3 linked regions of the Homo sapiens genome follow. The protein of the gene in region 1 interacts with the protein of each later gene in a biochemical or structural test. Each region holds a gene or a part of one and is shown on either strand. Other genes may lie near its edges.

Region 1 (7,635 bases):
TGGATGTGTAATTTTGCATTTTACAGAAATCATATAAATGGAACCATTTTAGAAACAGTGTGTAGCCTTTGAGACTGACTTTTTTTAAACTTACCAGTTTGCATTTAAAATTCATTCATATCTTTGTATTTCTTGATAGATCATTCCATGTTATCACTGCATAGTGTTCCACTGCATGGGTATAATCCACCGTGGTTTATCGATTCATTTATTGAAGGGCATCTTGGTAGATCACGCTTCTTGGAATTTATGAATAAAGCTGCTGCAATCATTTGAATGCAGGTTATTTTTTGTTGAAATATTTTGAAATGTACTAGATCAAAATTTGCTGGATCATATTGTAAAATTGTGTTTATCTCTGTAAGACTGTTAGTTTTGATTGTTCTAATAATGTTTATGTTTTATTTCATATATTTCTAACTTACAGTAGAATTTCAGCTCTCCCCATATTAGATTTCAAACAGTTTTTTTCCTCTTCAAAATTTTTCACAATTTTGTTCGTGTTTCCTTATTTTCCTTTTTGACTTTTTTTGGAAGGAAACCACAGCCTATGCACATTCACTATCTTGAAAAGATTCTTATGAGGAGAAGTGTCTGATTCATTCTATCATTTACCATATGTCCTTCTTAATCTCATTAACATTAAGCAACAGGAGTACTTTACATTACTAATAGCTCTTGAAATTATGCTCTTAAATATTCTGATCTAACATATAGAGAAAATAACAGTAGAATCTATAAGGTCTATTCACTTTGGGAAGGTTAGTGCTAATGAGCTATTCAGTTTCTTATAAGGATTTAGCCTAAAATTTAGGTAATTTGCCACCAGAAGAAATGTGATATTTGAATGAGTGTTTTTTATTAATGTCCTAAACAGCTAACCACATAACAGTAAACTAAATTGGAGGTAACATTATATATATTTTCACATGGAATGCTAAATATCTATGTATGTTAATATTTTACAAATGAACACATCCACATATTGCTATTTACTGTATTTAGATTTATTTTCTTGTATTAACTGAATTCAGAGGAAAGTCTTAGAGAGTACGAACAACTAGGAACTGATCTAAATTTCTGCTTAGATTAACTCTCATTTTTATCACATAAGAATAAACGTCAGGATCAGCCCATCTTATTATTTCTGCCCACTTCATTCAAATAATATATTTGCATTTGCTTTGTCCTAAAAACTTCTGGCACACAGTTAAAATAAGGATAATATAAAAGATCTTAAAGAGAAAGCAAGTATCTTTCTTAACCATAAACAACTTGAAATTGATATTTTGTCTCTATTTCTTTCATTAACAATGTGTTACTTTAGCATTTTGAGCACTATCTGTAGCCTGTGCTAAGTATTTATATGCAGTCTCTGATTTAATTGTTTTCTCATGACAATTTAGTGGTAGTTACTATTATTATCACCACGTTCTACTATCCTTACTACCTGTCCTGCTAATCATCCATCTCTTCCAATTTCATCATATTATGGCCAATTTATGCTTTCTATCCACCTGGCTCTTGGATAGTAGACAAACTCATTCCTGATTTTGTTATCCTAGAATGATCTCCCAATTTTGGTGAATGATTTCACAGACACATACAGCTATTGGGTGTCTGTGGTTACTACGATTCTCACATTTGGAGAGAACACCATTTGTAAACATCTGTGTGTATATGTCAATACTCTGAGGAAGGGGGATTATTATTGGAGTTTTCTTCGAGAGAGATTTTAGAAGGGATGTGATCAAATGTAGAGCTATTACAATAAAACTACTGCTACTTACATCCTGCCCCACCTTTAGTGTCTAGCCAATAATGCTTAAAAAAAACCCAAAAAACCCACTATCTCACTAACTGAGCAATGGACAGGCTTGTCTCTTGTTAGCTTTTCAAAGTAGAATTTTAAGATTCCTTACTCAATAATAGGTAACATTTGAAGCATACTTTGAAAAGTTAAATAAGAACATAAACATCATCTGTAATTATACCAGCCATATATAATCACATTTAGTATGTTGTTTTATGTTTCCCATCTTTTAATGAAAATGTTATCATGCTTTACATACATTTTTTAGTATAATTTGAATATTTTAAATAATATTACATAATCTCCCAAAACATTCTTCTTAATTACTTTCAGAATTCTACCATATGTTTATCTAATTCATCGAATTATGGAAGGACAATGGAGACTAAGCCTGCTATTCAGAAATAAAAGCAGAAGGCAGATATGCATGGGGACTGGTAGTTACCATTTCTCTTAACATATCAAGAATATTTTGCAACAATTCCTGTTTCTTTGTTTTTTCATATTTTATTTTAAATCTTCACTTGCCAGCACTATTTTGTATAGCAGAATGTATCATAGTAAAATGTGAGATAAAATGTTGAATCAAATATTACACCAAATAAAAGTTTTTGTTCTTTCCTGTCATTTTTATGAACTAATAATTCGTACTTAATGATCCCTTACAAAATTAGGAAGTAGAAATAATAGGAATGAATCTAAGGCTATCAGACTGTTAAGAAACATAAAGCTAAGCTCTTTAGACATGAAGATAGATGATAGATAAATAAAGACCCATGGAGTGCGTGTGTATGTGTGTGTGTGTGTGCATGTGTGAAGTATGCCTCGCTCCATGTATCAAGGCCTGGATGTCCTAACTTGGGGAAGCTGTGACTGTTAGCTGCCCCTCTTCATATTGTGGCCGTTCCTCATGTGGCTGCTCTGTGTGGAACTCTGAGTTTCAAGTTCACCACCTCAACTTGTAAAGTGAGCCTGTCTGAGATGCGGGGGGCACTAGGGCTGCTGCCATTCTAGTGCCTGCACTGGTGTGATAAGCCTCCTGTTGGAATGCGGTGTTCTCAGAAGGGGTGTCGCAGGGTGTGACTCAGACTGTGTTATCTCACACAGTGATCTCATCTGGCAGCAAATTCTTCAATTTTGCATGGCACAAATCAGATATTTCTTTAAGGATTTGTGTTTTAGATGTGATGTGAGGCTGTTGGGGAGTAGTAGGGGACCTATTGAGTAAAGGCCCTTTACTTTGCCCAGTGAAGTGCTTGACATGTGTAATAGTCTATAGGAAACACTTGGTGAGAACACCATTTGTAAACACCTGGCCTCAAGGTTCTGATATGTTGGCTCTATTTCTGTAGTGTCCTGGCCAGTGATGATCTTAGCCAAAAGCCCTTCCTTACTGACAGGAGAAATAGCAGTTCTGGGTACCTAACCTGCTTAACTGAGGGATGTGATGCTGGGTTCATTCAACACATGTTCTTCCTGGAGCATAGCTGGTGACTGCTCTGATGATTTTGTCTTTCCTCTTCCTCATTCCCCTTTCTTCTTATCTACTTACAAAACCACATTCTTGGAAAGCTTCCTGATTAATGGTCCAGATAAGGAAGCTCTAGCAATATCACTTTAAATGCTTAATATACAATATTTAGAAAACCTTATGATTGTAAAAGAGCTTAAAAAAGATGTGAAAGAACAATCACTAAATGCATTGACAACATATGTGTTAAGTGAACAATATGTACCAAAATGGACAGATGAGAGGTGTACATTGGGGTGTGAGTTGATAATCCAGCAGACTGTGGGACTAGAGGGTCTACGGAAAAAACAAAGGAAGAACATACAAACAAATTTTAAAACACTGTCTTTCAAACACCTAAAACCTGTTTGGAAATAGAGAGCAAGAATACATATTGGATTACACTTAGCTTTTATTTTCCTCTAGATTTCAGACTTTAAGTGCTCTGAACTTCTGCACTCTGCAAACCTACTTCTAATTATTTACATATGATAACATGAGTCTATGCAGCTTGTTCTCTATAGGATATTCACAGGACACTACAGAATGTTTTGGGAGATTATGTAATATTTAAAATATTCAAATTATACTAAAAATGTATGTAAAATGTATTGAACATAGGCAAGTTTCAATACATAGATTTTGAGTGAATGCTTGCAACTTTGGTTCCATTCTCTCTACTTCCTTAAGGTGGTGTCCAAGAGTACATTTTTATAAATAAAAAGTTATAGTACACATCCCTAAGGGCAGCAAGTAGAAAACGTGCTAGGGAGACTCGATCTCACTTTGGAATCTATCCTGGGAGACAAATGCCTCTACAAATGGATTAGAGAAGACAGTTTTAAAGAGGAAGATAATACAGGTAAAATCTGGGGTTTTATGAGAGAAAGAAAGAGGTAGAAGAAAAAATTTCAAGCTCGAACAGGGTCATCAGGTGGCACAATGCGGTCAATGCCTGCAAACTCAGGGGTAAGTATTATTCTCCCTGTTTACAGTTCCGTGGAGGAGAAGTGACTTGCCTGTGGTCATACAACAGAGCAAAGAAAAGGCTTGAGCTAGAACTCAGGCCTTTGTTAGGTCTCCCCTTCCTCCTAGCACATTGGCAAATTGCATGAGGAAAGTAGAGGTACAGTTGAGTTCATGTACAACAATAAGGCATTCAGGTAAAGTGAATGAGGGCAGAAGTTTTATGATTTAGGGAAGGTGTAAGACAGGAAAATATCTTTGTTCCCAATTAAGAAAGAGATCCCTTGACCATCAGTTAGAGATTCCCCCAAGTCCCTCTTTGCCATAAGTCACTGAAACTGAGATCCAAGGCATGGCTTCTGTGAGTCAGGAGAGCTTAACCCAGAGGAGAGATTTCAGAACAGGATATTTCCTATTTTGAGTATCCTGCTCATGCCAGTCATGGATAAATTTGCATCTGGCTTAAGAAATTACTGGATCAGCATTGTTTTGGGTAGTTTCACTTCCTGCTGGGTGGGGTAGCAGGCTCTATAAAGAGATCCTCTGCTGCACGACTCTTAAACCCCTGGTACCTGAGCACTGATCTGCCTTGGAGAACCTGGTGAGTCGGCTTCCTTGAGTTCCTCTGTTCTTTGTGCCCTGAAATGTTGAGTTTAATCTGAATATGGCAAGTTTGGTGGATCCAATCCTATGAAAATTGACTTGATGCTACTTAGTGGATGAAAATTTAAGATTAGAGCACAATTATATGCTATTTTAGCTTTCTTTTGTTATACAGGTAGGTATCCATATGGACAGAGAAGTTAAGGGGTAACCTTTGATATGAAGAAGAAAAAAGAACAAAGTATTTTTCTTTATTCTCTGTCTTTCTAGTGTCCTTTACAAAGGTTTGTGTCTTAGCAGGTGTGAAAGACTACAATTCTCCCTGAGCAGCCCTTTGCTCTATGCCCAAGTCAGCCCACTTGGACTTTATAACAGATAATGATGATAGGAATAGCATATTAGATTGCCCAGGGTGTCTGAACTTGTGACTGCCTTTCTTGAATTGGTTATTTTCAGGGAAATAAGATGCTTGATTCTTTATAACAGAGATAATTTATTTGGAAAAATTGTATGAGAAAACACAGGATTTCCTAGGGACAATGAAGCAATTTGTTAAAGTGGAAGGGAGAAACCAGAAAGTCTTGAAAAGGTAATTAAGAATTTAAATAATTTCTTGGAGATTGGAGAAATAATATGCCATGGTATTACACAAGCTTTGGCTTCTCTCTCTGGAGGATTCCCTTCCCACGAACACTGTTGTATCATTTCTTTCAGATCCTGAGACTCCAGCAGGATGTCTTATCAACAGCAGCAGTGCAAGCAGCCCTGCCAGCCACCTCCTGTGTGCCCCACGCCAAAGTGCCCAGAGCCATGTCCACCCCCGAAGTGCCCTGAGCCCTGCCCACCACCAAAGTGTCCACAGCCCTGCCCACCTCAGCAGTGCCAGCAGAAATATCCTCCTGTGACACCTTCCCCACCCTGCCAGTCAAAGTATCCACCGAAGAGCAAGTAACAGCTTCAGAATTCATCAGGACCAAGAAAGGATAAGGATATTTGGCTCACCTCGTTCCACAGCTCCACCTTCATCTTCTCATCAAAGCCTACCATGGATACACAGGGAGCTTCTTTCTCCTTAGCCAGTAATCTGCCCATGATGATCCCTGACAGCAAAAAGTTTCTTTTCTGAGGCTGCCATACTGCCACTGTCCAGGTGGAGACTGAGCAAAGGAAGTCCTGGGCTGTGCCAGCTCCCAGAGCTTCGGAAGAAAGAGCAGCAGCTCTCTCCCTGGGAACCATCAGAGAATTCTGTTGATGTGTTCTGTGTCTGTCTGTCACCTGGTCACGAGCTTCTACCACCTTTGCAATTGTCACTTATCTTTCACTCCCTGAATAAAGTATCTATGCATATATATTTGTGAATGGATCTTTTGTTTATTTTCAAATCTGCTTTATTAGCAATAGTATGTAATCTTTTGGATTTATTTCAATCTTTCTTTGATTCACAGCAGGATCTCACAATTGGAGTCATACCAAAGATTATTTCTGTATCATTTTAAACCCCTTTTATTTTCCCTAATTAGCATTTGATTGATTTGAGGAGGATATTATTCAACTTCTCTGAATTGACAACTTCTCTTTACTGCAAAGTGAGCAAAATAACATTTACATTACAAACTAGTCTAAGGCATAAAATTTGATTACTATCTGATATTTGGTTGGCACAATGCCTGACACGTAATTAGCTGTCATTTGATAGAGTTGTATTCGCAGCAACATATTATCATTGTTTTCACCATCACCATCCTCCTCCTCCTCCTCCTCATCATCATCACTCCCCACTACAACCACTACCATATTTGTTCCAGCAAGAGAGTGGCTTGGGTGTAACTAACATAGGAAATAAGAAGACTCTCTAATGTTATTTGTATTGATTCATAATACTTGTACACATTTACTGCATACATGTGATTTTTTACATGAATAGAATGTGTAATGATCAAGTCAGGATATCAGGAAATTTAGGGCATTCATCCCCTGCAGCATTTATCATTGTTCTTTATTGGGAACATTTTAATTCTAGCTATTTTGAAGAACACAGTACATTGTTGTATACCGTAGTCACCTTCCTCTGCTATCAAATATTAAAACTTACTCATTTTATGTATCCATATGTTTTTACTCGTTAACCAGTATTTCTTCATTCCCCATCCCCCTGAACACCCTTCCTTGCCTCTGGTATCTCTCATTCTACTCTCTACCTTTATAGATCATCATTTGTAGCTCCTACATATGAGTGAGAACATGCAATATTTGTCTTTCTCTGCTTGATTTATTTTACTTAACATAATGACCTCCAGTTCCATCTGTGTTGCTGCCAATGACAGGATTTCATTCATTTTATTACAATGGACTAGTATTTCATTGTGTGTATATACATATTTTCTTTATTCATTCATTCATTAATGGACACTTAGCTTACACATCTTTTCTGTTGTGAACAGTACTGCAATAACCGTGGGAGTTCAGGCATCCTTTTTGCGTACTGATTTCCTTTGGATAGATACACAGCAGCTGGATTGCTGGATTGAATAGTAGTTCTGCTTTTAGTTTTTTGAGAAATCTTCTTACTGTTTTGCATAGCAATTGTACTAATTTACATTCCCACCAAGAGTACACAAGGCTTCTTTTTTCTTTACACCCTCTTCAGCGTAGCTTTTTTTATCTTTTATTTTAAGTTCAGGGGCACATGTGCAGGTTTGTTATATAAGCAAGCTCATGTCGCAGGGTTTAATCGTAGCACCCA
Region 2 (8,437 bases), on another chromosome or scaffold:
CTGACCACAGGCCACGCGCAGGAGCAGGCAGTGTGGAGCCCGCGTCTCTACGAGGCTGAAGACGGGAGACATGGCTCATCACCGCACACGCAGCGCTGGCTGCCAGCGAGGTAGCCCCACACGCAGTCTAACACACTCAGGTTCCAATCTGATTTACTATTAAGAATTTAAGTTCAAATGGACATGAGCCCTCGAGGCTCTCACCTCTCATGTTAAACATCTGGGTTCCTATGGCTGCAGCCAGGTGCTGAGCCTGCCTGGCCTGGGGCCCCCAGTTAGGAGGTGGGCCGGTGCCAGCGCCTATCCCACAGCACGGCCATGAGGAGCACAAGACTGTCCGAGTCAGTCATCGCCACCACCACCACCACCACGACGGAAATCACTTGTGCCCCACCCCAGCGCGTGGATGTTGGCCAGCACGGTGAGCCACGCCCACCAAGAGCCCCTGCAGGCAGAAGACACTAAGCTCCGGGGCTGGAATATTTACCTTATCCATCCGATCCTTCTGCACCCCATACTTCCCGCCGAATCCTTTGGAGTAGTCTGAAACGTGGCAAAACACAACACTTACTCTGAGGTGGAGGCGAGCATGGGGGTGGCCGTGGGTGCATGCAGACAGATCCAGAAACAGCCCAAGAAGGTGCACCACAGCGGGAAGAAACGAGAATGGCCAAGCGAGGCTTCACTTGCAAGGCAAGTTTTGCTTCCACCCATGGTCGTGAGACACAGGCAGTGAGAAGCAGAGCACAGGCCAGGGGCAGAGGCTTCAGCATTCCCTGAGGGGCAGGAGGGGCAGGAGGGGCGGCGGGCAGCAGGCAGGAGCTAAGCGAGGAAAGAGGGCACGGACAGGCCTTTGCAACGCGCCACTTCAATAGCACAGTCTTCCGCACCAGCACGGGCTTATTCTCATCTGCTTCCTGTGCGCCTGCTCTACTGAGCGCTAAAAAGAGGCTCAATCGCAGTTTGTTCTCTTGCTTTTTAAGAGAAAAAAAAAATCCATGTGGAAATTCTACCAGCCAAAGACTTCCGTTGCAGCAACACAGATCCACATGAAAGTCACACTGTCATGCAGCAGTGATGCCACGGAGAGCCACTGCCATCTCCATGCAGTCTGCGGGACCACCCCAGGTGTGTCTACCTGCCCACACCTGAACACTGCTGTGTGTTTCTAACGCTGCAGGTGGAAAGCCTAGAGTCTTCCCTGCAAGGTTAGGGAATTACTGTTTTTCCAATTATGTGTTCAGGTTCTAATAACCAAGTCCAAATTTTGAAGGTAACAACATAACTGCTCTAAGGAAGGATGCAGAGCTGGCTTCACGTACATACTGTGTGGCTCTGTGTGGAGATGTTACACACATATGGTGTCATCAAACAGAACAAACAAAAAACCTCCCAACCCCGGCCAAAAACACCACCACAAATGAAACACAGAAACCACACAGAACACGCCTGTCTCCTGGCCCTTGCTGCTACGAAGCCCCTGGTCAAATGGCCAGTGGTTTGGTTGAACCAACACCTCTCTCCTCATCTGGAAGGCCTGACTCAGTGGCTCACGGCAGTCACCAATAACAGCAGAACAGCCTCGGGCAGAATGCTGCTGGAGACCGGAGATGCCCCAGTCCAGAGACTGGATGGGTCACCGGGTTAGAAAGATGGCACCCACACACTAACTGGCGCATCCTGCCATACACAGATCACAAGTTCACAGGGAAGAAAGTGAACCACTCAAAATCAGTGTCGCTCTACTAGAAATGGGTTTAAAGTGCCGAACAGCCTGACAGCTGACAAGTGGTGACACAGGAGGACTGTGTTGCAGGTGCTGACGGTGAGCCCTGAAGTCTGTGCTAGAAGTGGCCGCACAGGAGGGTCGGGGGGAGGGTAGGAGGCTGGTGGCAACTGTGCCTTGCTGGGACTCGTGCTTGGCCAGCTTCTCCTTGTAATCAAACCCCACAGCAGCGGAGTCCTGCCTCTCCGACTGAACACCGAATTTGCCTCCAAAACCAGTCTTATAATCTGAAAATCCACAAGCAACGGTGGGGAAAACAACCAAAAGAGGAAACACAGTTGGGTTAGAATTGCATGAGCATGCGCAAAAATCAAACACAGTTTCCAGAAAGCAAGGGCTCTCCTGAGCTTAGGGCCTTTGAGATCCTACTCCCAGGCTCAGCGCCAGAAGGTGGCTCCAGAGGTCAACGTTAAAGAATGAACTTAAAATCTGAACATTCAGCGAAGATCTGGAACAGCCTAAGAACTGTACTTCAAATAATTCAGTAAAGGCACTCCCGGCTGTGCAGTTCATTCTTAGCGTCCTACGCACACTGCAGACGAGTGTGCGTATCTGTGTACACGGGAGGAGAGACCCTGCAGATTCGGAGGGCGCTGCAGCCCCATTAGCCCCGCTCCTGCTTCTCTCAGGGCTGGGTCACACTGAGAGGCTTTCAGCCCCCTCAGGCTCCTTTTTCCAGGGAAGGGGCACCCATTCCAACAAGAAAACACTTTCGGTTCAAAAGTAAGTATCTCCTGCCAAAAACCGTGGCCCACTTTATAGACAAGAAGCCTGGATGAGGAGCACTGCAGGCTTGGCCCATGTCCCCACTCCCGGGTAAACCCAGCCCCCCGCTGCAGGCCTGACACATGCCCCCACTCCCGGGTAAACCCAGCCCCCCGCTGCAGGCTTGACCCATGTCCCCACTCCTGGGTAAACCCAGCCCCCTGCTGCAGGCTTGGCCCGTGCAACCCACTTCCAGGTAAACCCAGCTCTCTGGGGTACCACCCCGTGTCAGCAGGGAGGGTTTGTGACTACACTAGCTGGAGGGAACTGGGGGATTGGGGGGGCACACAGGACAACTTCAAACAGTGAAGACAAAACAATGTGCAGCAGGCACACGCAGACACAACACATACCAACTGACCCCGCAAGGAACAAAAACAAACTTCTAAAACCATCTCGCATACAGGCAGAGTGAATGTACCTTTTTGGGATTCATGCAGCTGCAATTTCTCCTGGTGATCCCAGCCAAGGGCACATTTGTCTTGTCTGTCTGTCTGCACACCAAATTTTCCTCCAAACCCTTTCACATAGTCTACATGCACAATGAAAGGCCAGAACCCATCATTAACAGGTAGTGCAGGTCACAGGTGGAAAGTATGTTTTCAATACAGTTAAACGCATATGATTCACTCAATCTACTCTTCCCTTCCGGATCTTTGGTAATACTTTAGATAACATCCATGAAGAGGCCCTCCTTGGAGAGTGGCAGGAAATAACCTAGTCTATGACCTCAGCATCGTGACTAAGCCAGACAGGACCCCATGGAAGCTCCCACGCATGCGGCTTCCACCCGCACCATGAGACAGCACAGGCTCACACGGGCAACACAGACGTGCGGGGTGTGGCCACCACGATAAGCAACGCCGCTGGGGCTGGAGCGCCATAACACTCAAGCTGCGAGTTCCTATTTAGCAGCTGTGTTTCTGGATGTGCCGTTTTCAAGTTGGGCATTTCATGAAAAAGAGACATCTACGTTAAGGGCTATCAATAACGCTTTGTTTTTCCTTTTCCGGTGTGGCTACCACCTGTCACATTACTAGCTGCTGGCTGGAGGGTAAGATAAAACGGAAGACACCTTTCTGGGACTCGTGCTTCTCCGTTTTGCCTTGATACTCAAAGCCAACGGCGCTCTTATCCACTTTGTCCTTGTCGATACCGTATTTGCCGCCGAAACCTTTGGAGTAATCTAAAAACAAACAAAAAAGGACTACTTTAAAAGGAGCAACGAAATCAGTGAACATGCAAGTATTTTATCCTTTGATTAAAAAAACAAAAATCTTTCAGGTCCACTGTAGGACCACTGAATAATACAGACAGTATTTAAAGGTGCTATTTATGTGTAATAACAGAAACACAAACAGTGGTAACCAGAGGTGGGGGTGTGTGCCTGCAGCCCAGCTACTCAGGAGGCTGAGAAGGGAGGATCACTTGAGCCCAGGAGGCGGAGTCCAGCCTGAGCAACATAGCAAGACCCCATCTCTAAGTTAAATCATTAGCTAATATTTTAAAAATTCAAAAAACAGGCTGGGGGAGGGGGCTCACGCCTGTAATCACAGCACTTTGGGAGGTCGAGGTGGGTGGATCACCTGAGGTCAGGGGTTTAAGTCCAGCCTGACCAACATTATGAAACCCCATCTCTACTAAAAATACAAAATTAGCTGGGCGTGGTGGCCCACACCTGTAATCCCAGCTACTCGGGAGGCTGAGGCAGAAGAATCACTGGAACCCAGGAGGTGAAGGTTGCAGTGAGCCGAGATTGCGCCACTGCACTCCAGCCTGAGCAACAAGAGTGAAACTCCATCTCAAAAAAAAAAAAAGAATTAAGAAAAAAAGTTTTTTTTTTTAAAGTACAGCAGAGGCTGGACACAGTGGCTCACACCTGTAATCCCAGCACTTTGGGAGGCCAAGGTGGGCGGATCATGAGGTCAAGAGATCAAGACCATCCTGGGCAACATGGTGAAACCCCGCCTCTACTAAAAATACAAAAATTAGCTGGGCTTGGTGGTGCATGCCTGTAATCCCGGCTACTCAGGAGACTGAGGCAGGAGAATTGTTTGAACCCGGAAGGAGGAGGTTGCACTGAGCTGAGATCGCACCACTGCACTCCAGCCTGGCGAGAGAGAGAGACTCCGTCTCAAAAAAAAAAAAAAAAGAAATAAAGTACAGCAGATGAATTCCTGTAACATCATCCATTGCATCCAGAAGCTAGCAGGAGATGAGAGTTTATGATAAGGCTCTAAGCTCAGGAGGCAGCAGAAGGGCAAGGCTTTCAAAGGCCACTCTTCACAAACTGAAGCACGCAGGGGGATGCCAGGAAATAGGACACACACAGCATCCTCCAGAAACTTCAGTTCTACTCAGAATGAAGCCATTTAGCATGTCACTGTGACACCAAAACATGACTCTCTCATGGACCCACTAACAGCACAAGGCAGAGGATCAAGGCCTGGGAGAGAAGGCCTGAAGCATCCAAGGAGCCTTGCGTCTGCCCAGGTGCTCGGCCTGTGCTCCCTGGCTCCCTGGAGTCACACACTCATGCAGCTTCGCGGAGCATGCGCTGCTCACAACTGTGTGGTGTCGGGAAGAGGAGGAATGGACTGTTCCCAGGAAAGAGGCAGAGAGCAGAGGCAAGCAGCTCTGTGCGGCAGGCAAGGCCTGACCGGCAGGAAGGCAAGGCCAGGCCAGGCCGCGACAAACTACAAGCCAAGCTGCCCTCCAGGCCACCGGCACTTTCCTCAGGGAAATGCCAAGCCAGCATGGTCGGATCTTCCAGTGGTGTTTCTTGCTTTGGGGTAATTTTTTTTTTTTTTGAGTTTTTAAATAGTCAAGCTCTCACTTTTCAAATGTTGGCAAATATTTTTAAAAATTTAAATGTGCAGGCCAAACAAGAGGCACAGGGAAACAGGCAGGCCACAGCCTCTGCAGCCCTGGGAAACGCTCTGAGTGATGGTGTACAGGCTATGCAGTGGGGAAGGAAGAACTCAGCACAGCCTCCAAGGACAACTTGGCAGTATCTATGGAAATTTTACATTCAATAGCCTTCGACCCAGCAATTCCATGTCTAGGAGTTGATTCTTTTGAATAATCACTTGTGAACAAAACACAGGTACAAGAATGTTCCCTGCAGTCAAGTTTCAGCTGGGCGCAGTGGCTCACACCTGTAATCCCAGCACTTTGGGAGGCCAAGGCAGGGCGATCACCTGAGGTCAGGAATTCAAGACCAGCCTGGGCAACATGGCAGAACTCCGTCTCTACTAAAAATACAAAAATTAGCTGGGCGTGGTGGCGTGTGCTTGTAATCCCGGCTAGCCGGGAGGCTGAAGCACGAGAATTGCTTGAACCAGGGAGGTGGAGGTTGCAGTGAGCAGAGATCACGCCACTACACTCCAGCCTGGGCAACGGAGCGAGACTCCGTCTAAAAGAAAAAAAAAAAAAATTTACAGGTCACACCTGTAATCCCAGCACTTAAGGAAACCAAGGTGGGGGAGGATTGCTTGAGACCACGGAGATCAAGACCAGTCCGGGCAACACGGCAAGACCTCATCTCTACCAAAAATAAATAAATAAATAAATAAATAACCTAAATTCCACATTCAAAAAAGGAATGGTTACATGGACTATGGAATCCTCATACGATGGGGAACTGTGCAGCCATTCGAATTAGGAAAAGCCCACATACACTGGTACGAAAAGAACACCAAACATTTTCAGTTAAAAAATCTACAACAATCACGTGTGCAGAGAGAAAATGCCCTCGTGGGTGTTTCTGGAGCAAACGCGTGATTACAGACCGTGGGGTCCGCCCCACCTCTCTGTGACTCGTGCTTCTCCGTCTTGCCCTGGTAGTCGAAGCCCACCGCGCTCTTGTCTACTCGGTCGGCCTGCACGCCATACTTGCCGCCAAAACCACTGGAGTAGTCTGGAGAGACAGGGCAGCAATTAGCACGGGGGCCTGAGGACGAACTACACTGTTCCTTTTGTTAAACTAAGCAAAAGTGTGTAGGGGTTACAACTCACAAACACATCAAGCGCACATTTTAAAATGTACAACAAGCCACCCACTGCTCCATACAGGTGACGCTGGACCCTGTTTCACAACAGGTGCATGGGGGGGTTCTGGGCCCTGTCAGCTGTTACAGGGCAGTTCCTTTGTGTAGTCAGAAATGACGCTGCATGCCCACTTTGAAAATCAACTGCTCAGGTAAAAGCTGGAAAGCTTCATACAAAGAACCAGCACTTTGGAGGCTGAGGTGGGCGGATCACTTGAGGCCAGGAGTTTGAGACCAGCCTGGCCAACGTGGCAAAACCCCATCTTTACTAAAAAATAGAAAAACTAGCCAGGGGTAGTGGCACACACCTGTAATCCCAGCTACTTGGGAGGCTGAGGCAGGAGAATCGTTTGAACCCAGGAGGCGCAGGTTGCAGTGAGCCGAGATCGTGCCACTGCACTCCAGCCTGGGCAACAGAGCGAGACTCTGTCTCAAAACAAACAAACAAACAAAACAAAATGAAAAAAATGGAAAGAGAAAGCCTCATATGAAGAAAGCCATGCAGCTGAACATGGGAGACAAGACCCTGATCCTCCGCCTGCCCACACCACAGCTACCTCCACCTAGACTGCACCGAGACTGCGTAAGGACTGAGAGCTTGTTCCGCGGATGATGCAATGACACAAAGGAGGAAGAACTAAATAAGCTTGCAAAAAATAAACTGAGAACTTTAAGGTGGCGATATGCTTTGGTCTTTCAAAAAAGAGACTGCATGATGTAATCAAGATTAATCACCAGCAGTTAAGACCGTATGTGTATAAGGAAAACAAGAATTTAACAACTCTGGTTTCTAGCCTTGGGGGGAAGTTAGCTTTCTGCCGATCAATCTGTGAGCTCTCTTTTCCAGGAGGAGCGCTGCCCAGATGAAGGGAAGGCGGCTTCCGCTACAAGGGGGAGAAGCCCCACAATGACAGCAGATGCCAGGGCTCCGAGGGGGATGTGTAACGGGGAATACATCCATCATGTGGTATCCAGATGATCCAGAAACATGAAGAGGAGGGCAGAGTCCTCCTTGTGGCAACAGCCACCGCTCAGGAAACGGCTTCAGGTGGCTGTGACTCTCCCCATCAGGGCCCCCGGAGCGCGGGGAAACGGCTTCAGGTGGCTGTGACTCTCCCCATCGGGGCCCCCGGAGCGGGCTCTTTCTGCACCTTTCGCGTCTTACCTTTCTGGGAGGCATGCTTCTCAGTCTTCCCCTGGTATTCAAAGCCTACAGCAGACTGTGACGACCAAAAACACATGAAAAAGTGGGGAGAAATACTTTCCAATGTCCCTGAAACAATCTCTCTGAATTCATGACATGACATTTAAAAAAATATGAAACACATGATGCTGTGACCTCTGGGTTCCTAAGCCAGGTGCAGGTGGCAGTGACGCAAGAGCTCTGGCATCCTAAACGGACAGGCCCACTGCAAGGCCCAGTGGGCGGCGCAGGCCAAGCCATATCCCTGGTGACCTGCCCTCCCCAGCATGCGGCAGCAGGGAATGCTCAGCTGATTCATTCCACGGGCTTCACAAAAACTCGCTTCTCAAATAAGTCATGCTGAGAACATTAGTATTAGTAATGAGAATAGCAGTGGCCACCAGGGGTGCACTCCCACCAGCCAGGCACTGCGATGGGCATCTGAGCAAACACCCGTGAGATAGGTATGATCATCCTCCTTTCACAGACACATAAATTCAGAACCGTGGCTAATATGTCACAAAGCCACAATCTGCGACCAGCATCAGCTCCCTGCTCCCTCCAGGCTCCTGATCGCTCCTCTATTAAACAAAAGAGCCAACAGACCCGAGCCGAAGAGAATCAAAGAGGCTCGGGCCTAGGATGACTGCAACA
Region 3 (8,437 bases), on another chromosome or scaffold:
AGATCGAGACCATCCTGGCTAACTCGGAGAAACCCCGTCTCTACTAAAAATACAAAAAAACATTAGCTGGGTGCGGTGGCGGGCACCTGTAGTCCCAGCTAATCAGGAGGCTGAGGCAGGAGAATGGCGTGAACCCACGAGGCGGAGCTTGCAGTGAGCCAAGATCACGCCACTGCACTGCAGCCTGGGCAACAGAGGGAGACTCCATCTCAAACAACAACAACAACAAAAAACTTATAATTACCTCCATGAAATTTTTTTCCATATTTTATTTTTTATTCCTAGATTATTTTTGCTGTAGTAGTTGCAAATGGGCTTTCTTTTTTCCTTTTACATTTTCCAGTTGGTTATTAACTGGTATGGCAGAATGCTATTGATTTTTTTTAATGTAAATATTATGTACAGCATAATCTCAAACTCTTAATTAGTTCTGATGGTTTGGTTGAAATTCTCTTTAGTTTTGTGTAGCCAGTTCTGTCATTTACAGATAAGCTAGCATCCTTGTATTGGTCCTGACTTCCACTGGAGTGCTTCTGAAGTTTTACTGTTAAATGTGAAGTTTGCTTTTTGTTTTTGATAGATATCTTGTCAAAATTCTCTCTCTCTACCTTGCTCAGATTTATTTTATTTTATTTTTATTTCATTTTTATTTTTGTTTGAGATGGAGTCTCACTGTGTCTCCCAGGCTGGAGTGCAGAGACGCAATCTTGGCTCATGGCAACCTCTACCTCCTGGGTTCAAGTGATTCTCCTGCCTCAGTCTCCCGGACAGTTGAGACTACAGGCGCGTGCCACTCCGCCCAGCTAATTTTTGTATTTTTAATAGAGATGGGGTTTCACTATGTTGGCCAGGCTGGTCTTGAACTCCTGACCTCAGGTGATCTGCCCACCTAGGCCTCCCAAAGTGCTGAGATTACAGGTGTGAGTCACTATGCCCAGCCCTTACCTTGCTCAGATTTTTATTGTGAAGAAATATTAAATTTTATGAATGGCTTTTCTGCATCTGTTGAGACCATTGTATGTATTTTCGCTTTAGTATGAAAATGTGGGAATAGGAACAGCTCTGGTCTGCAGCTCCCAGCGTGATTGACGCACAGGACGGGTGATTTCTGTGTTTCCAACTGAGGTACCTGGTTCATCTCACTGGGACTGGTTGAACACTGGTCGCACCCCATGGAGGGTGAGCCAAATCGAGGCGGGGCATCACCTCACCCAGGAAGCGCAAGGGATTGGGGGATTTCCCTTTCCTAACCAAGGGATGCCGTGACAGACTATACCTGGAAAAATGGGACACTTCTGCCCAAATAGTGGGCTTTTTCCACAGTCTTAGCAACAAGCAGACCAGGAGATTCTCTCCCATGCCTGGCTTGACGGATCCTATACCCATGGAGCCTTGCTCAGTGCTAGCACAGCAGTCTGAGATCAATCTGCGAGGCAGCAGCCTGGCAGGGGGAGGGGAATCCACCATTGCTGAGGCTTGAGTAGGTAAACAGAGCGCCCAGGAAGCTTGAACTGGGAGGAGCCCACTGCAGCTCAGCAAGGCCTACTGCCTCCATAGACTTCAGCTCTGTGGGCAGGGCATAGCTGAGCAAAAGGCAGCAGAAACTTCTGTGGACTTAAACGTCCCTGTCTGATAGCTCTGAAGAGAGCAGTGGTTCTCCCAGCATGGTGTTTGAGCTCTGAGAACGGACAGACGGCCTCCTCAAGTGGGTCCCTGACCCCCGTGTAGCCTGACTGGGAAACACCTCCCAGTAGGGGCTGACAGACACCTCAAACAGGCAGGTGTCCCTCTGGGACAAAGCTTCCAGAGGAAGGATCAGGCAGCAATATTTGCTGTTCTGTAGCCTCTGCTGGTGATACCCAGGCAAACAGGGTCTGCAGTGGACCTCCAGCAAACTCCAACAGACCTGCAGCTGAGGGACGTGACCATTAGAAGGAAAACTAGTAGACAGAAAGGAATAGCTTCAACATCAACAAAAAGGACATCCACACCAAAACCCCATTTGTAGGTTACCAACATCAAAGACCAAAGGTAGATAAAACCACAAAGATGGGGAGAAACCAGAGCAGAAAAGCTGAAAATTCTAAAAATCAGAGCACCTCATCTCCTCCAAAGGATCGCAGCTCCTTGCCAGCAACGGAACAAAGCTGGACAGAGAATGACTTTGACGAGTTGACAGAAGTAGGCTTCAGAAGGTCGGCAATAACAAACTTCTCCGAGCTAAAGGAGCATGTTCTAACCCGTCGCAAAGAAGCTAAAAACCTTGAAAAAAGGTTAGATGAATGGCTTACTAGAATAAACAGTGTAGAGAAGACCTTAAATGACCTGATGGAGCTGAAAACCATGGCACAAGAACTTCGTGATGCACGCACAAGCTTCAATAGCTGATTCAATCAAGTGGAAAAAAGGATATCAGTAATTGAAGATCAAATTGATGAAATAAAGTGAGAAGACAAGATTAGAGAAAATGTTTATTGTATCAACCTTCTATTGTTGAACCATCCTTGCATTTCTCAATGAACTTTGATTAGTCTTGATTTTTTTCTGATATGCAATTCCAAATTCTATTCTAAACCAGTTGGAGTGGTTCACATTTGTAATCCTAGCATTTTGGAAGGCCAGGGCAGGAGGATTGCTTGAGGCCAGAAGTTCAAGACTAGTCTGAGCAACATAACAAGACTCTGTCTATAAAAAATTTTAAAATTGGCCAGGTGTAGTGGTGTGTGCCTGTAGTCCTAGCCACTAGGGAGGCTGAGGTGGGAGGATCCCTTTGAGTCCAGGAGTTCAAGGCTGCAGTGAGCTGTCATCATACCACTGCACTCCAGCCTGGGTGACATAGCAAGACCCTGTCTCCAAAAAGAAAAAGAACTCTATTCTAATATTGTGAGACTGTTGCATACATGTTCCTAGGTGAAATTGAATTTTTTTTCTTTGTACTATTCTGGTTTTGTATCAAAGTTTTATAGCTAGATAGGTTTTTCTGTTGAGTCTAATTTCCTTTTTTTTTTCAGACAGTGTCTCACTCTGCCACCCGGGCTGGAGTGCAGTGGTGCAGTCATGGCTCACTGCAGCTTCTACATCCTGGGATTAAGTGGTCCTCCTGCCTCAGCCTCCTGAGTAGCTGGGACTACAGGTGCATGCCACCATGCCCAACTAATTTTTATATTTTTAGTAGAGATGGAGTTTTGCCTTGTTTCCCAGGCTGGTCTCGAACTCCTGGGCTCAAGCAATCCTCTCACCTCAGCCTCCCAAAATGCTGGGATTACAGGCATGAGCCATCTCACCTGGCCTAATTCATTTCTTTATAGGCAGACTGCCTTCTCCTTAGTAGCCTTGATACGTTTGGTCCTCTAGCTTTATTATATTGTAACCAGGTAGGAATATACAGACACACACACACACACACACACACACATATTTTTTTTTTCTTCCTGCTTAGTATCCACAGTATTCAGTCTGAGGATTCATTTCTTTTTTTAATTCAGGAAAATGCTCATCAATTATACCTTTAAATATTATTTTAAGTTTTGTTTGAACACTAGTCTTTACTGTCTCTTCTTCTGTCAAGCATTATATCGGGACTAGTGTCTGCTATAAGTAACATTATCTGACTCACTGTGATTTGGACTATTAAGACATTTATTGTTTAGTTAGCAAGAAGTCTAGAGATCTGCCTTCTCAACATTGTCATCAAGGGACCTAAGTTTTTCCTGACTTCTTTTTTTTTTTTTTTTGTCAGCTCTCTTGACTTTTTGGCCATCTCTGTCTTTTGTTTTGTTTGTTTGTTTGTTTGTTTGTTTTGAAATAAGTTTCACTCTGTCACCAGGCTGGAGTGTGGTGACGCAATCACACCTCACTGCAGCTTCCATCTCCCAGGGCTCAAGCAGTCCTCCCACCTCAGCCTCCCGAGTGGCTGGGACCACAGGTAAGTGCCACAACGCCCAGCTAATTTTTGTATTTTTTGTAGAGATGGGTTTTTACCATGTTGCCAAGGCCGATCTTAAATTCCTGGGCTCAAGTGATCTTCCCACCTAGGTCTCCCAAAGTGCTGGGATTACAGGCATGAGCCACCACTCCCTCACCATCTCTGTCTTATTCTTTGCTCCTTTAAAAAGAATCTTACCCCACCCCTGATCTGGTTGCTTTCAATATTTTTTCTCTGTTTTAGTTTTCAGCAGTTTGCTTTGTTAGGCCTCAGTGTGGTCTTCTTTGTATTATCCTGGGTGGAATTCACAGGGATACTTGAATCTGACTTTGATGCCTCTTATTAATTCCAGAAAACTTTAAGCCATTATTTCTTTAAATATGGTTTCTATCTATTGTCACTTTACTCCTTTAACTCAACTTGCATATATACCCCATATGTCACTATACTCCCTGTATCTTACTCTCTTTTCTGTATTTATCCTTCTGTTTCTTATGCTTCATTCTGGGTATTTTCTTCCCATCTCTTTCCTAGTTCACTGATATTTTTCTTTCACTGTGTCTAATCTGGTATTAAACCAGTCATTGAGGCCGGGTGCAGTGGCTCATGCCTGTAATCCCAGCACTTTGGGAGGCCGAGGCGCGTGGATCACGAGGTCAGGAGATCGAGACCATCCTGGCTAACATGGTGAAGCCCCGTCTCTACTGAAAATACAAAAAATTAGCTGGGCGTGGTGGTGGGCGCCTGTAGTCCCAGCTACTCAGGAGGCTGAGGCCGGAGAATGGTATGAACCCAGGAGGCTGAGCTTGCAGTGAGCCGAGATCACGCCACTGCAGTCCAGCCTGGGCAACAGAGTGAGACTCCATCTAAGAACAAAAACAAAAACAAAAAAAACAGTCATTGAGTTCATAATTTCAGGTTTGGTTTGGTGTTGTTTTTAGTTGTAGAATCTTCATTTGGTCCTGCTTTATATTATAGTTCCTATTTTCTTTTGGAAAATCCCAATCTTGCCTTTTTTATTTGAATATATTCAACACAGTTGTTTAAAGTTTCTGCCTAATAAGTCTATAATAACTCTATTATCTAGATCCCCTTTGGAGCTCTTTGTATTATCTGAAGTTTCTTTTTTTGTTTGTTTGTTTTGTTTTTGAGACAGTCTCACTCTGTTGCCCAGGCTGGAGTGCAGTGGCGTGATCTCGGCTCATTGCAACCTCTGCCACCCAGGTTCAAGCAATTCTCCTGCCTGAGCCTCCCCCGTAGCTGGGATTACAGGCACCTGCCACTGCACCCAGCTAATTTTTTATAGTTTTTAATAGAGACGGGGTTTCACCATCTTGGCCAGGCTGGTCTTGAACTCCTGACCTCATGATCCACCCATAATTTTGTTATGTAAGCCCTATCATTATTATTATTATTATCATTATTATTATTATTATTAAGACAGAGTCTTGCTCTGTTGCCCAGGCTGGAGTGCAGTGGTACAATCTCGGCTCACTACAACCCCTGTCACCCAGGTTCGAGTGATTCTTGTGCTTCAGCCACCTGAGTAGCTGGGATTACAGGCATTCGCCACCACACCTGGCTAATTTTTGTATTTTTAGTAGAGACAGGGTTTCGCCATGCTGGACAGGCTGGTCTCAAACTCTTGGATTCAAGTGACCCACCTGCCTCAGCCTCCCAAAGTGCTGGGATTATAGGAGTGAGCCACCATGCCCAGCCAAGCCCGTTTATTTTTTAATGAGAGCTGCACATTGTATATAGACAGTTTAATGTGATTTGAGGCCTAAGGATATCTTTCTCTAAAGACTTTTCCTTTTGACCAGAATGTTAGGCCACTAACAATCTAGAATCACTTTAATCCAATAAAGGATTGAGCTGATTTAAAACTTGGTTTTCATTCCTGCCAGGTAGTCCATTTCCTGTTAACCTTTTCACCCTTTCTACTAGCATATTTCCCTTTTTAAGGTCCCAATCTGAAGTGTGAGGGTTCCCTATGGCTTTCCTCTTTAGGGTTCTGAACTCCAGTTTATGGCTCCTTAGCCCAGGGAGTCTTAAAATCTCTGCCCAGCTTCTCATCCTGTCAACCATCTCTTCTGGAATTGGCCCTGGTTTCTAGAGAAACGCCTGAAAAGATCTGGCTCTCTGGGTTTTTTTTTTCCTCCTTGATTTTGTCTCCAGAATTCTTCGGTGCCTCGTTCTCTAATGCTTTAAACAGAATTCCTTCCTATTTCCTTCCCTTCTAGTTCATTGGGAGGGTTAATCTAATTACCTCGACAACCATTACTTAAAATAGAATTCCCAAGTTCTGTATTTCCATTCTGCTCCTTAGTGTACAGCAGCTAATTTTCTTCTTGACCGGTAGTTGAAAAACGGTTCCAGTGGCTGTGGCCACCTTTTCTTTTTTCTTTTTTTTTTTTTTTTTTGAGACGGAGTCTCACTCTGTCGCCCAGGCCGGAGTGCAGTGGTGCTATCTCGGCTCACCTCAACCTCTGTCCGCTTCCCAGGTTCAAGCAATTCTCTGCCTCAGCCACCCGAGGAGCTGAGATTACAGGCGCCCACCACCACGCGTGGCTAATTTTTGTATTTTTAGTAGAGACAGTATTTCACCATCTTGGCCAGGCTGGTCTTGAACTCCTGACATTGTGATCCACCCACCTCAGCCTCCCAAAGTGCTGGGATTGCAGACATGAGCCACCACGCCTGGCCTGTGGCCACCTTTTCTAAGATTTCTAATGGAATTTTTAAAATATTTAAATGTTTTTATTTAATTTCAATTTTTATTTCACAGATATTATTTCATTTCTCTCTCTGATAATTTTTAACATATCTAAAATCATTCCTGAGCTGTTATATAAAATTAGTTTTTTTAAATTGGGTTTTATACTTGCTGATTTTTGTTGGCTTTGTTTCTTAGTGTTTTTATTTCTTCATGTGTGTGGCATTTTTGAGATGGTCATTTTGAGTAGTAATTTTGGAGTTCTGTTTTCTCTCCTTTCCCTCTTCCATGTTCCCCTCTCTCTATCTAATAGGTGTCCTGTTGCCTCTCCCTGTTCCCTCTACCTACCACTTAGGTAAGAATCAGGTGTAAAAACAGTGGGTCAGACTGGGCATGGTGGCTCACACCTGTAATCTTAGCTCTTTGGGAGGCCAAGGCAGGAGGATTGCTTGAGCCCAGGAGTTGGAAACCAGCCTCTCAAGATGTAGCGAGAACCCATTTCTACAAAAAATATCAAAAAGAAAAAAAAAAAAAAAGGCAGGCATGGTGGTGCACGCCTGTAGTCCCAGCTACTTGGGAAGCTGAGGTGGGAGGGATCGCTTGAGCCTAGGAGTTTGAGGTTGCAGTGAGCCGTGATTGCACCACTGAACTCCAGCTTGGGTGACAGAGTGAGACTCTGTCTCAAAAAAAAAAAAAACAAAACACACACACACACACAAAAACAGCGAGTTAGATTAAGGATATCACACATCAAGTCGGTCAGTTGTTTCATTTCCTGGGCTGGAGGCCTTATCACAGTCCTCTCCCTCTCTTAGTTCTGTAACTTTCTCAAAATATTAAACTGTCATCAGCAAATTTTATAATCTCTTTGTAGGAGTCAAGGTGGCACATCCTCATTCCCAGCCTCAAGCATTGAACTGGTTCCATTTTAATGGAGCACTTTTCGTTTTTGTTACTTCATTGAAGCCTGCATCTTGGCTGTCACTGCCTGATTACAGAACCAGAATTGAGTAGGCCCGTAGCTTCAGCCCTCCTTACCATTTTACATTTCTGTTTAGTTTCTCTTCCATAAGTCTGTCTTGTGTTAAATCTAGATAATGTCTGTTTGTTTGTCTCTCTGTTTTCTCTATTATTGCTTATACTTGGGAGCAGAACTGTTTCATTAAAGCCTGAATGCACTGCACTATCTGGCCGTTCACTGGCTCCTTTTAAGTTTTGTTCCATTTTTAAATATCAGATCCAATAAAAGAAAAAAAAATAGAGTTCTAGTAGCTTGTTTATAATATTACGATACAAGTCTAAATTAAAACTTTAGCCTGGATTAGAAAATTACCATTTTGCAGTTCCACATCTAATATTTGTTTCAGGCAAGGATGATGAATCGATGCTAAACTATCAAATGAACAGTTGCTGAGGAATAGAATATTTGTGGTACAAAACTGTCATCCCATAGATTATATACTAATTACAAAGGGAAAGATACATTTTAATGGAAAGATCTAATAGTCACCTCCTTAACCAACTAATCAAATTTAGCTTCACAAATGCGCCTCCTAAAGTAATACTGTGTGAAGTAAACAACATCACTTATGAATTATTCTTGCCAAAAAATATTGAACCTGATTGCAATCAAACCGTTAAATGCAATCTTAATTTAATAGGAGGCGAAATAAGAGTACAAGTTAAACAACACTTGGGGGAAACACAAATCTGGGGGTAGGACATTTCTTTCTTTTCTTTTTTTTTTTTTTTGAAACAGAGTCTCACTGTGTCACCCAGACTGGAGGGCAGTGGCA

What was found.
Region 2: the proteins of SPRR2A (region 1) and CTTN form a complex in vitro, tested with the Homo sapiens proteins (one study listed by BioGRID and IntAct).
Region 3: the proteins of SPRR2A (region 1) and PEX13 form a complex in vitro, tested with the Homo sapiens proteins (one study listed by BioGRID).

What each region holds. Positions count from the first base shown.
Region 1 is NC_000001.11:153,054,726-153,062,360, reverse strand, and holds SPRR2A (small proline-rich protein 2A), read left to right. Parts: upstream 1-4,848; 5' UTR 4,849-4,890; intron 4,891-5,606; 5' UTR 5,607-5,625; coding exon 5,626-5,844; 3' UTR 5,845-6,241; downstream 6,242-7,635. UniProt on the Homo sapiens protein: Gut bactericidal protein that selectively kills Gram-positive bacteria by binding to negatively charged lipids on bacterial membranes, leading to bacterial membrane permeabilization and disruption.
Region 2 is NC_000011.10:70,415,046-70,423,482, reverse strand, and holds part of CTTN (src substrate cortactin), read right to left. Parts: intron 7,821-8,437; coding exon 7,766-7,820; intron 6,471-7,765; coding exon 6,360-6,470; intron 3,738-6,359; coding exon 3,627-3,737; intron 3,084-3,626; coding exon 2,973-3,083; intron 2,014-2,972; coding exon 1,903-2,013; intron 975-1,902; coding exon of another isoform or gene 931-974; exon of another isoform or gene 544-930; coding exon 488-543; intron 1-487.
Region 3 is NC_000002.12:61,020,015-61,028,451, forward strand, and holds part of PEX13 (peroxisome biogenesis factor 13), read left to right. Parts: intron 1-8,437. UniProt on the Homo sapiens protein: Component of the PEX13-PEX14 docking complex, a translocon channel that specifically mediates the import of peroxisomal cargo proteins bound to PEX5 receptor.